Linked DNA regions of Homo sapiens. The protein of the gene in region 1 purifies or fractionates together with the protein of each later gene. This does not show direct contact. Each region holds a gene or a part of one and is shown on either strand. Other genes may lie near its edges.

Region 1 (3,750 bases):
CTGCTGTTCTTTGCACCATGAACACCTACCCACTCTCTCTGCCTGAAATACTTTCTCAACTGGGGACACCCCATTCACGGGCCATGTTCCAATCGGCTTACCTTCTGTCTCCTCTAAACAGACTTCCCTGATTCTGGGCTGCCAGATTTTACAGAAGGAGGCCCATCTTCTCTGTACCTGCCCATCGGCACGTGGAGTCATGAATACATACCTTCCTGCTCCCCAGTGAGTGTCACGGTCTTCACCGCATGCTCCTGAAGTGCTGAGCAGCTGAGCTGCCTGTCTTCAGCTTTAATCAGGAAACACGCATTCTGTGGACTGAGGAACAGGAGAGGCCGTGGCACGCAGAGTAGGGGATGCCGCCCTCCATGTTCTGGCCCCAGGAAAAACTAACCTGGAGGCAGAAAAACTCAAACTGATGAATGGATAATTATCCACTGAAAATTCTTTAAGGGGAACTGGTTTATACTTTTTTTGAATTTGAGATAACATCAATCTATTTAAACTACTTTTTAATTCAAATGATGACTTTGTCCCTAATAGCTTAAAAAGCAAAATAACGTACCTTAAACATGACACATACACTCTTGGAGGCTTTTGTCTGTGCATGTGTCGGAAACTGATGTTTGCCAAGTGATAAATAAACAGGTGCCATTAGGAAAAACAGAGGTTTTCACAAATGAAAGCTCCTTCCCTCTCCCACACCCGCTCGCATATCCTCCCTGAAGACAGAGGCCAGAAAGTGAGGCTTGCTCTTCATGGTGCCTGCCGACCTCTGCAGCGCTGGACCCCTGTGGGGGAATGCCAGGAGGCTTAAGAGACACTCCCCTGCCACAGACACAGTAAGGGTTGTGTCCACAGAAATTCGCTTTAATGTTCTCTAACTAGGACTTGACGGATCCATGGCCAGGCTGACAACTCCACACAAACGTGAAGGAACCTGACAGGCAGGTGCCGACATGAAGCAGGTGCAGGTGGCTCCGGGCAAAGCAGCAGCTCCCCAGTCACCATCCACCCCACCTGGGGAAGTAGCACCTCCCCCATCCAAGGTCCACCCCAACCCAGGAGAAGCAGCAGCTCCCCTGTCTGCCATTAACCCTGACCTGGGAGAAACAACACATCCCCAGCCACCTTGCACACTGACCTGGGAGAAACAGCCTCTCCACCATCCACCTTTCACACTGGCCTGGGAGAAGTGGCACCTCCCCCATCCACTGTCCAGCCCAACTTGGGAGAAGCAGCCCCTCCCCCATGTACCATCAACCCCCACCTTAGAGCAGCAGCTTCCCCTTTCCACTGTATACCCTGACCTGGGAGAAGCAGCCCCTCCGCATCCATCGTCCACCCTGACCTCTGAGAAGCGGTGCCCCCCACCCCCATGCAGAGTGCACCCTGATTGCGGGTGATGCCTGAGGTGTGGGAGGGGCGGGGGTTAGCTGCTGCCACTGCTTCTCGTTCTCTCGAGTCCTTGCTCTGTGCCTGCACGTCAGGTTGTTCCTGTGATGGGGCCACGTGCAAGTGTGCACCAAGGGGACTTGGCCGGGTACTGTACGTCCACTGGGACACACCCTTCTACGGGTATTGCACGTCCACTGGGAGACGTCCTTCTAGGGGATCCTCACTGAGCAAATGAAGCAGAATTTGGGTAAAAATGAATTTTCCCAAAGCTGCAGTACAGCTTTTCAGTCCTCTAACTGCCTGAGATAAATGTTGGCAACTTCCTTTTATATTAAATTTCATTTTTGTCACATAATACACTTGATTATTGACCATAATAACTTTATTAATATACAGACTGATTATTGATACTCACCGATGTATTTCATGTGTTATTGAGAGTCACTCATTTGGTTTAGAAAGACCAATATCACATTGAGTAATTCGAAACATATTTAAGGCATAGAACTTGCATTTTTTTCTCTTAAGCAAAATGAGGAGTTCTAGCCAATCTTGCTAGTGTTATTTATAGCATCTTATTTCCTGAGAGAAGACAGGAAAAGTGAGTCCCTGCCTTCCCTCTCTCCGTCTGGCTCCTCCCAGGCCTGTCTGGCAGGGGCCGGGGTGCAGGAGGAGGAGACGGCATCCAGTACAGAGGGGCTGGACTTGGACCCCTGCAGCAGGTACTCGGAGCAAATGGTGAGATCAGAAGGGGGATGATGTCATTCCTTCGAAGGAATGAATTAAACGTGCTTCCTCGTGTGTCTGATTGACAGCCCTGCACAGGAGAAGCGGCATATAAAGCCGCGCTGCCCGGGAGCCGCTCGGCCACGTCCACCGGAGCATCCTGCACTGCAGGGCCGGTCTCTCGCTCCAGCAGAGCCTGCGCCTTTCTGACTCGGTCCGGAACACTGAAACCAGTCATCACTGCATCTTTTTGGCAAACCAGGTACGATTATTTCTTAAACTCAATCAATTATTTAATGGTGCTCTAATTTTAAGAAATTAGAGTTCTCGAACTCTAAGAAGCGGAGAAGAAAAAGGAGCAATTTCGATTCTTAACTTAAGGTGGGTGGTGTATCTATTAACACTAAATGGCAAGTGTTTCTTCACGTGGTGTTTCTACTGCCCGCTTGAAGAGCAAGGCACGTGGCCGCTCCTCAGCTTTTCCTCCGTGGCTGTGCTTTCACCAGCCGGGCACCCCTTCCTCTCTGAGGGTTGTGGCTGCTGCTATTTCAATGTATATACCTGCCTGGGAACCCGGGTAAACGCTTTATGTTTTCAGTTTCCGAAGAAGAAGATTCCACATGAGAGTTTGTTATTGAGGAGAGAATTAGAAACAACTCCCGGAATATCTGAAAAGTAACTGGAGATTAGAGAGAGACTCTGATTGTTAACATCATTATTAGTAGATTAGAGAGAGACTCTGATCGTTAACATTATTAGTAGATTAAAGAGAGACTCTGATTGTTAACATTATTAGTAGATTAAAGAGAGACTCTGATTGTTAACATTATTAGCAGCTGAAAAGTGGTTTTGAACATAACTAGAGAGTATTTGTGGTAAGTCTATGGAAAATCCTGTGACTGCCGGGACACACAGCGACTTTTAACAGTCTTGGGGCAGTTTGCATATGAAAAGCGAGCTGGCAGGTTGCCTGGCTACCACTTAAGGAAGGTGGGTTTGGCTGCCCAGGACTGGGAGCTGAGCACCCAGGAGTCTGGTGTTTAATCAGACTGCTGTTGGTGGTGGACGGCCGGTAAACAATTAGCTCTCTGCAAAGCTATCTTTTACTTTGATTGTTCATACGAAAAGAGTTTTAAAAGACCTTTGCAAATTCAAACTACATTCTGCTGCAGACAGGCACCGAAATCTTTCTTTTGGAAAAACACAAGCATAAACGTGGATGTGTGGCGTGCAGAGGCTGGGGCAGGGGTGAGCGGCACTGGCTCATCCGTGGCTCCATCCATGCATGCCCGGTGTCCCTGGATGGGCTGAGGCCAGGTAGCCTGGCTGCTCATCCTTCCTGTGGGATGGAGCCTCACTGTCCTTTGACAATCCGCAGCAGGGGATGCTTTGTTAGCCTCCTGCTCTTGTAAGAATCTACCTCAAGGCAGAGACAGTAGGATCTGGTTTCGTCAAAGGAGTTTGATTTAGTTTTTCTAACCTGTCCTTATGAAGCTGGGCATCCAGAACTTTCGCATTTACCATCCTGTTCTTGGCTGGCCTCTGCAGGGCCAGCCCCACACAGCTGTCCTTAGGGGACTGCGACGTACCCGGCAGTGTGGGCTGATGAGGTGGGGAGGTGGGAAG
Region 2 (3,750 bases), on another chromosome or scaffold:
TTTTTAAAAATTCTTTATAATTAGTCAAATTCCTGAAGTTTTCTTTTGCTTTTTTTTTTTTTTCTTTTATTGGTGGGAAAAGTAATCAGAACTTGGTCAGTTGTTTGTATAATGGTAAAGACTTGCTAAGTGATGCATCAGATAGCATTAATTACCAACTTCTTGCTTCCTGAGTAGCTTTTGTAACTAAAGCATGGTCAGGATTTTAAAAGTTAACATGAAAATCTTCATACCCATTAACCATTTTGGATATCTGACAGAATTTACATTATTTACAGCCATGTTAATTCTTACCAGCCAGGCTAGTAAAGCAATTCAGGGAAACAGTTTAACAAAAGTAATCTGTAATGGGAGGTCATGACACCTGGCTCAGCCATTAGCGAGTGATTAACACGTTTTGGATAATAGTACTTTCTGAACACCTTAAACAATGCAAAGAAAAAGAAATATACTCCCATCCTGAAACTAACACCAGTGGCACTGTCTTGCTGTCTTAATGTCATATTCTGCACATGTATACCCATAAGCATTCGTATACAGTTTTGCAAAATTGGGATCCACGTGCTGTTTTGTAGCTTGCTATTTTTCTCTTATTATGTTATGAACATGTCATAAGCCAGTTAACGTATTTTTGAAATATCATCTATGTAAAGTATTTTTATAGCTGCCACTGTAGAAGTGAAAGGTTTTCTTACCATTTGCTAATACAGACAGAACTGTGATCAATTTCCTTGTGGCCATATGTTTGTTTAAAACTTTATTTCCTTGGGGCATGTCTTAGTCCATTTCTGTTGCTATAAAGGAATACTTGAGGCTAGGTGATTTATAAAGAAAAGAGGTTTCTTTGCCTCAGGGTTCTGCAGACTGTATGAGAAGCATGGCACCAGCATCTGCCTCTAGTGAGACCTCAGGAAGCTTCCAGTCGTGGCAGAAGACTTAGGGGAGCCAGTGTGTAGAGATCACATGACCAGAGTAGAAGCAATTTCCAGGGAACACAGGATGTCAGGCTCTTTTTTAACCAACCAGCTCCCCTAGGACTAACAGAATGAAAACTCAGTACTGCTAGAATCTCACCAACCTGTTTATAAGGGCTCTGGTTCCATCACCACACCACCTCCCATTAGGCCCCACCTCCAACATTGGGAATCACATTTCATCATGAGATTTGGAGGGGCCGAATAGTCAAACCACAGCAGGGTACATGCCTAGATTGGGAATTACTGGCCAAATGGGATGCTCATTTTGGTGGCTTTTACTCACTGCTGCCATGTTGCATTCCAGAGAGGCACCAATTTATTCTTCTAGCAGCAATGTTTGAAGATGTCTATTTTTTATACCCTTACCAAAACAGTATTAGCATTTTGAAAGCTGTCAAATTGGCCAAGATTTAAGTATAACTCACAGTTTTGATTTGCATTTCTTTAACATTAATGAATTTAAACATCTTCAGTCTGTTATTATTATTGGCCACTTTTTTCTATTGTACATTGCCTGTTCATGTCCTTAATCTTTTTCCTACTGCAGTATTCATCTTGACAGGACAATAAATTGTCCTGAAATAAAATAAATTGTCCTGAAAGTATTCATCTTATGTTAAGGGTATTTAAGCTTTCTTATATGTGCTATCCATATTTTGCCTAGTTTATATGTCCTTTAACTTGAGTTATGTTGGATTATTTATTCTGTGGGTTTTTCCCCCCAGAGCATTCCTGCAAAACCTGTGGGTTTAAAAAAAAAGTTTTAGGTAATCGGCCAGGTGCAGTGGCTCATGCCCGTAATCCCAGCACTTTAGGATCCCAGCTTGGGTGGGTGAATCACTTGAGGTCAGGAGTTCAAGACCAGCCTGGCCAACATGGTGAAACCCTGTATCTACTAAAAATACAAAAATTAGCCAGGCATGGTGGCATGTGCCTGTAGTCCCAGCTACTCAGGAGGCTGAGGTGGGAGAATTGCTTGAACCTAGGAGGCAGAGGTTGCAGTGAACCGAGATTGCACTACTGCATTCCATCTTGGGCAACAGAACAAGATCCTGTCTCAAAAAACAATAATTATTTTTTAGGTAATCAAGTTTTTAAAATAGCTTTTAAAGAATAAGCCACCAATTGTACCTAGATTATCTAAAAGATCGATTACGTCCTAGACACGTAACACATTTAGTCATCCATTTAACAGACTTCATAGTTAAATTACGGTTGTTAAACTGTGCCGGACAGAGGCCCTCAGTATTAAACATGAATAAGATAATGTATTTGTCTTCAAGAAGCTCACGTTGTAGTTGGCAGAATGGACACATGGACAGTTAGATACGGGGTAACAGTTGTAATAGAATGAAAACAGGTCTGTGGAATCAGAAAGGACCCTCCGCTGGAGACAGGAAAAGCTTTCCCAGTGACAGGCAGCTAGACTTAGCTTACTTGATAATCTGAAGTAGAACTATTACATTCTGATTTTTTTACTGACTTAGTTATTTATCTGTTCCATTTTTCCAAAAGGTTGTACCAGTAGAAGATTATGGAAGATTTTGTCATTGACAATTGGTGGAACCATTGCCCTTTGCATTGGACTTCTTACATCTGTCTACCTTGCCACGTTACATGAAAATGATTTATGGTTTTCTAATATTAAGGTATGGAGTTTCTTTGACCATTGTATCATTCACTCAGTGGGATCTCCAGTAGTAAGCCATGTGGATGAATGACCAAGGCAACACAGTTTTGCCATAAAGAATCCAATCTCTAGAAAGGTTGGACTATAGAGTGAAATAACTTTTGTGTTTATTATTTTAAAATAACATATTAGAATCTTTTTTTAAATTTTTCTTTATTATTTATTTATTTTTGAGATGGAGTCTCACTCTGTCACCCAGGCTGGAGTGCGGTGGCGCAATCTTGGCTCACTACAACCTCTGCCTCGCAGGTTCAGGTGATTCTTCTGGCTTAGCCTCCCAAGTAGCTGGGACTATAGGTGCGTGCCACCACACCCAGCTAATTTTTGTATTTTTACTAGAGACGGGGTTTCAGCATATTGACCAGGCTGATCTCGAACTCCTGACCTTGTGATCTGCCTGTCTCAGCCTCCCAAAGTGCTGGGATTACAGGCGTGAGCCACTGCGTCCAGCCAGAATCTTTATTTTTCATTTTAATTTTTTGAGATAGGGTATTGCTCTGTCACCCAGGCTAGAATGCAGTGGTGCAAACATGGGTCACTGCAGCCTCAACCTCCTGGGCTCAAGTGAGTATCCTGCCTAAGCTTCCTGTGTCACTGGGACCCCAGGCATGCACCACCTCACCAAGCTAAATTTGATTTTTTTGTAGAGACAGGGTCTCACTTTGTTGCCCATGCTGGTCTCGAACTCCTGGGCTCAAGCGATCCTACTGCCCTGGTCTTCCAAAATATGAGAATGAGCCATAGCACCCAGCCCAGAATTTTTATAATCAAGTGAGTTTTTTCTTTTTCATTAACTTATTCCATTTATTTAGCAGTTATTCTAAATTAGTATTTTTCAAGTTATAGATTGTGAAATTAGTGCAGTAGGTCATGAGTAACATTTTTCTTAATGAAATCAAAAAGAAAGAATACTATCACATCTAGTAGGGTTGAGGATTGTTTTGTGAAACTTTTAATTTTATATATATATATATATGCACAAACTGGGTCACAGTATACAAGGTACTTCCTTTTCTTTTTTTTCTTGTTGGCTACAACAGGAAAAAAAAAAAACAGAAAAGGAAATAAAAAAGCCACTGCTTT
Region 3 (3,750 bases), on another chromosome or scaffold:
GACAAGGGCCATTGATAACGCAGCCTGGATGGGGTTGCTCAGCCTGACCAGCGCCGCCGCCGCCCAGCCCACATGGGACGTGGGTTGCTGCTTCCAGCTCTTGTTCCGGATTTCTTTTCTTTTCTTTTTTTTTTTTTTAAGACAAAGTCTTGCTCTGTCGCCAGGCTGGAGTGCAGTGGCGCCAGCTCACTGCAATCTCCACCTCCTGGATTCAAGTGATTCTTCTGCCTCAGCCTCTCAAGTAGCTGGGACTACAGGTGTGCACCACCACACCCAGCTAATTTTTGTATTTTTATTAGAGATAGGGTTTCACCTAATCTTGATCTCTTGACCTCGTGAACTGCCCACCTCAGCCTCCCAAAGTGCTGGGATTACAGGCGTGAGCCACCGCGACTGGCCTCTTGGTCCGGATTTCTGTCTGAGTGAGGACGCTCCTGTTTGCACATAACAGAAGCCCTTAGAGTTTGGTGTTTGGGGGCAGTTGTTAAGGAGTCTGCGTTGTCTCAGGGAGTCCAAGGTAAAAGGAATGAGCTGGGGCCATGGCTGGGTGTGGTGGCTCACACCTGTAATCCCAGCACTTTAGGAGGCTCAGGTGGGAGGAGGGTTGAGCCCAGGAGTTCAAGACCAGCCTGGGCAACACATTGACACACTGTCTCTACAAAAAATTTTTAAAATAGCCTGGTGTGGTGGTGCTCACCTGGAGGTGCGCCACCTACTTGGGAGGCGGAGGGAGGATCACTTGAGCCCTGAGGCTGCAGTGAGCCATGATGGTACCACTGCACTCCAGCCTGGGTGATAGAGCAAGACCCTGGCTCACAAGAAAGGAAGGAAGGACAGACAGAAGGCAGAGCTGGGCCGTGGGCTCTGTTGGGTGCCACTGTCCCCGGGCCTCCTGCTACATCTGCCTCGCTCCCGTCCTGGCTTGCTGCCAGCTGTCTCCAGCCTCCTTTGCTTTCCCAGCTGTCCCGCAGAGTAAGGCAGTGCCCAGAGCCTGCGTTTCTGTCCCCTCCCCTCCCAGGACTGGGTGGGCCGAGGCTAGAGGTTTAGCCCTGTTTCTAGCCCCGTTTAGCCTCGTTTCTGTTTGTATATTTTTAAAATTCTATTTTTTTAAGAGACAGGATCTCACTATGTTGGCCAGGCTGGTCTTGAACTCCAAGTCTCAAGTGGTCCTCCTGCCTCAGCCTCTGAAAGTGCGGAGATACAGGTGTGAGTCACCACATCCGGCCCCACAGCCCCGTTTCTGGAGTGGCAGTGCAGGATTCTCGTCTACCTCATAACCATGGGGGTTAAGAAGGTGGGGAGGAGAAAAAAACTAAAAAAAACGAGGCGGGAACTGAATGGGCAAAATCAAAGGTGTCTGTGGCACACTGACGTCACCATCACTGTCACTCTGTCGTCACCACGATTGCCAGAGCCACCCTCGACTCACGTTCTCTTACATCTAAAATCGTTCCTGTCTGGCCTCTTTTTCAGCTGTGAAGGCTGCTTTCCTGGCGCAGGCCCCGAGTGGCAGCCGGTCAGCCGAGGTGCAGGCAGCTCAGAGCACGGAGCCTGCCGCAGAGGCAGGCGCTCCCGAGGGAGAGGGCCACAGAGGGGGGCCTCCCCGGGCGTTGGGGTCTCTTGGCCTTTGTGAAAACCAGGAAGCCAGAGAGAGGCCCGGAGGTTCCCCTCGAGGCCCGGTCACTTCTGAGAAAACTGGAGGACAGAGTGGCCTCGAGTCAGACGTCCCTCCGAACGCAGGCCCCGGCGCAGAGGGCGGGGGCAGCTGGAAGGGGCGGCCTTTCCCGTGCGGCGCCTGTGGCCGCAGCTTCAAGTGCTCCTCGGACGCGGCAAAGCACCGGAGCATCCACTCGGGGGAGAAACCGTACGAGTGCAGCGACTGCGGGAAGGCCTTCATCCACAGCTCGCACGTGGTCCGGCACCAGCGGGCGCACAGCGGGGAGAGGCCCTACGCGTGCGCCGAGTGCGGCAAGGCCTTCGGCCAGAGCTTCAACCTCCTCCGGCACCAGCGCGTGCACACGGGCGAGAAGCCCTACGCGTGCGCCGACTGCGGCAAGGCCTTCGGCCAGAGGTCGGACGCCGCCAAGCACCGCCGCACCCACACCGGGGAGAGGCTGTACGCGTGCGGCGAGTGCGGGAAGCGCTTCCTGCACAGCTCGAACGTGGTCCGGCACCGGCGGACCCACCACGGGGAGAACCCGTACGAGTGCCGGGAGTGCGGCCAGGCCTTCAGCCAGAGCTCCAACCTCCTCCAGCACCAGCGCGTGCACACGGGGGAGCGGCCCTTCGCCTGCCAGGACTGCGGCCGCGCCTTCAGCCGCAGCTCCTTCCTCCGCGAGCACCGCCGCATCCACACCGGGGAGAAGCCCCACCAGTGCGGCCACTGCGGGCGCGCGTTCCGGGCGCTGTCGGGCTTCTTCCGGCACCAGCGACTCCACACGGGCGAGAAGCCGTTCCGCTGCACCGAGTGCGGCCGCGCCTTCCGCCTGAGCTTCCACCTCATCCAGCACCGGCGGGTGCATGGCGCCGAGTGAGCCGGGGCTGCGGCGGAAGAGATGCCGGCGGCCTGGTGGGCGCGAGGCCGAGGCCGGGGGAGGCTCCTGTCCGCCCCGTGCGCGGTGAGGAAGTAACAGCCGGCTGCGCGCCTGGTTCTCGGGTTGCGAAAGCCTCGCCAGGCCTGCATCCGCCTTGGCTTGGGAGCAATCAGGAGAGACAGGGCTCGGGGAAGGCGAGCGCTGCCCGCGGGAGGCGATTCCCAGAGGCGGGGAGGTCTCAGGGGTCTGTCCCGGGCCGGCCGCCCGCCTCTGAGACTCCCCGCCTCCCACGGTCAGCTGCTGCGGGGCAGTGGCCGGTGATTGAATCGGTCATTCCTCCGCAACCAGGCCTCCATCAAAACCCTGCATGAGATGAGGGCCTCGGGCTTCGGGTTGGTGAAGGCGGGGTGGGGGGGCAGTTAGGAAGGGGGCGCCCAGACAGGGCATGGAAGCCTCGCGTCCTCCCCCGTACCTTGCGGGTCGGTGGTTCATCCATGTATTTCAACGCCTTTTCACAGCCGGTTCATATGGTCCCGACTTCTGTGTGCTTAGAAAATTATGGAACTTGGCCGGGTGCGGTGGCTCCCGCCTGTAATCCTAGCACTTTGGGAGGCCGAGGCGGGCGGATCACACGGTCAAGAGATCAAGACCATCCTGGCCAACATGGCAAAACCCCCATCTCGACTAAAAATACAAAAAATTAATTGGGCGTGGTGGCGTGCGCCTGTAATCTCAGCTACTTGGGAGCCTGGGGCAGGAGAATCACTTGAACCTGGGAGGCGGAGGTTGCAGTGAGCGGAGATCTGGGCACTGTACTTTAGCCTGGGCGACAGAGAGACCCATCTCAAAAAAAAAATTGGAACCTGAGAAGGGGGTCGTGGGGTCCCCGGGGCCCACCGTCTGCACTTGGCATCTGAAGTCGGGGTGGTCTTGTGGGACTGACCCCTTACCCTGTGGGTTCTGCACTAGCTCCGGGCAATTGGTGACAGAATCGAGTTAAATTGTAGGACATCGCGTTGGTGTCTGAGAGGGAGTTGGAGAGCTGGTTGGTGTGGAGGGAAAGGCTTACACACATGTGATTTCAGAAGCGTTCTGTGGGTAGAGGAATCGTTTTCTCTTTGAGACTGTTATGAGTATGTACAAATGTTATTTCCTGTAAAATATTTTCATTTTTTAAAATGTTATTTTCTAGATAGAAAAGTAGAAGTGTCTCTTT

What was found.
Region 2: the proteins of THBS2 (region 1) and DPY19L3 purify together in Homo sapiens (affinity purification with mass spectrometry; 2 studies listed by BioGRID and IntAct, with this or other methods). This does not show direct contact.
Region 3: the proteins of THBS2 (region 1) and ZNF696 purify together in Homo sapiens (affinity purification with mass spectrometry; 2 studies listed by BioGRID and IntAct, with this or other methods). This does not show direct contact.

What each region holds. Positions count from the first base shown.
Region 1 is NC_000006.12:169,252,360-169,256,109, reverse strand, and holds the start of THBS2 (thrombospondin-2 isoform 1 precursor), read left to right. Parts: upstream 1-2,263; 5' UTR 2,264-2,386; intron 2,387-3,750. UniProt on the Homo sapiens protein: Adhesive glycoprotein that mediates cell-to-cell and cell-to-matrix interactions. Ligand for CD36 mediating antiangiogenic properties.
Region 2 is NC_000019.10:32,408,747-32,412,496, forward strand, and holds part of DPY19L3 (protein C-mannosyl-transferase DPY19L3), read left to right. Parts: intron 1-2,492; coding exon 2,493-2,626; intron 2,627-3,750. UniProt on the Homo sapiens protein: C-mannosyltransferase that mediates C-mannosylation of tryptophan residues on target proteins.
Region 3 is NC_000008.11:143,294,267-143,298,016, forward strand, and holds part of ZNF696 (zinc finger protein 696), read left to right. Parts: intron 1-1,473; coding exon 1,474-2,534; 3' UTR 2,535-3,750.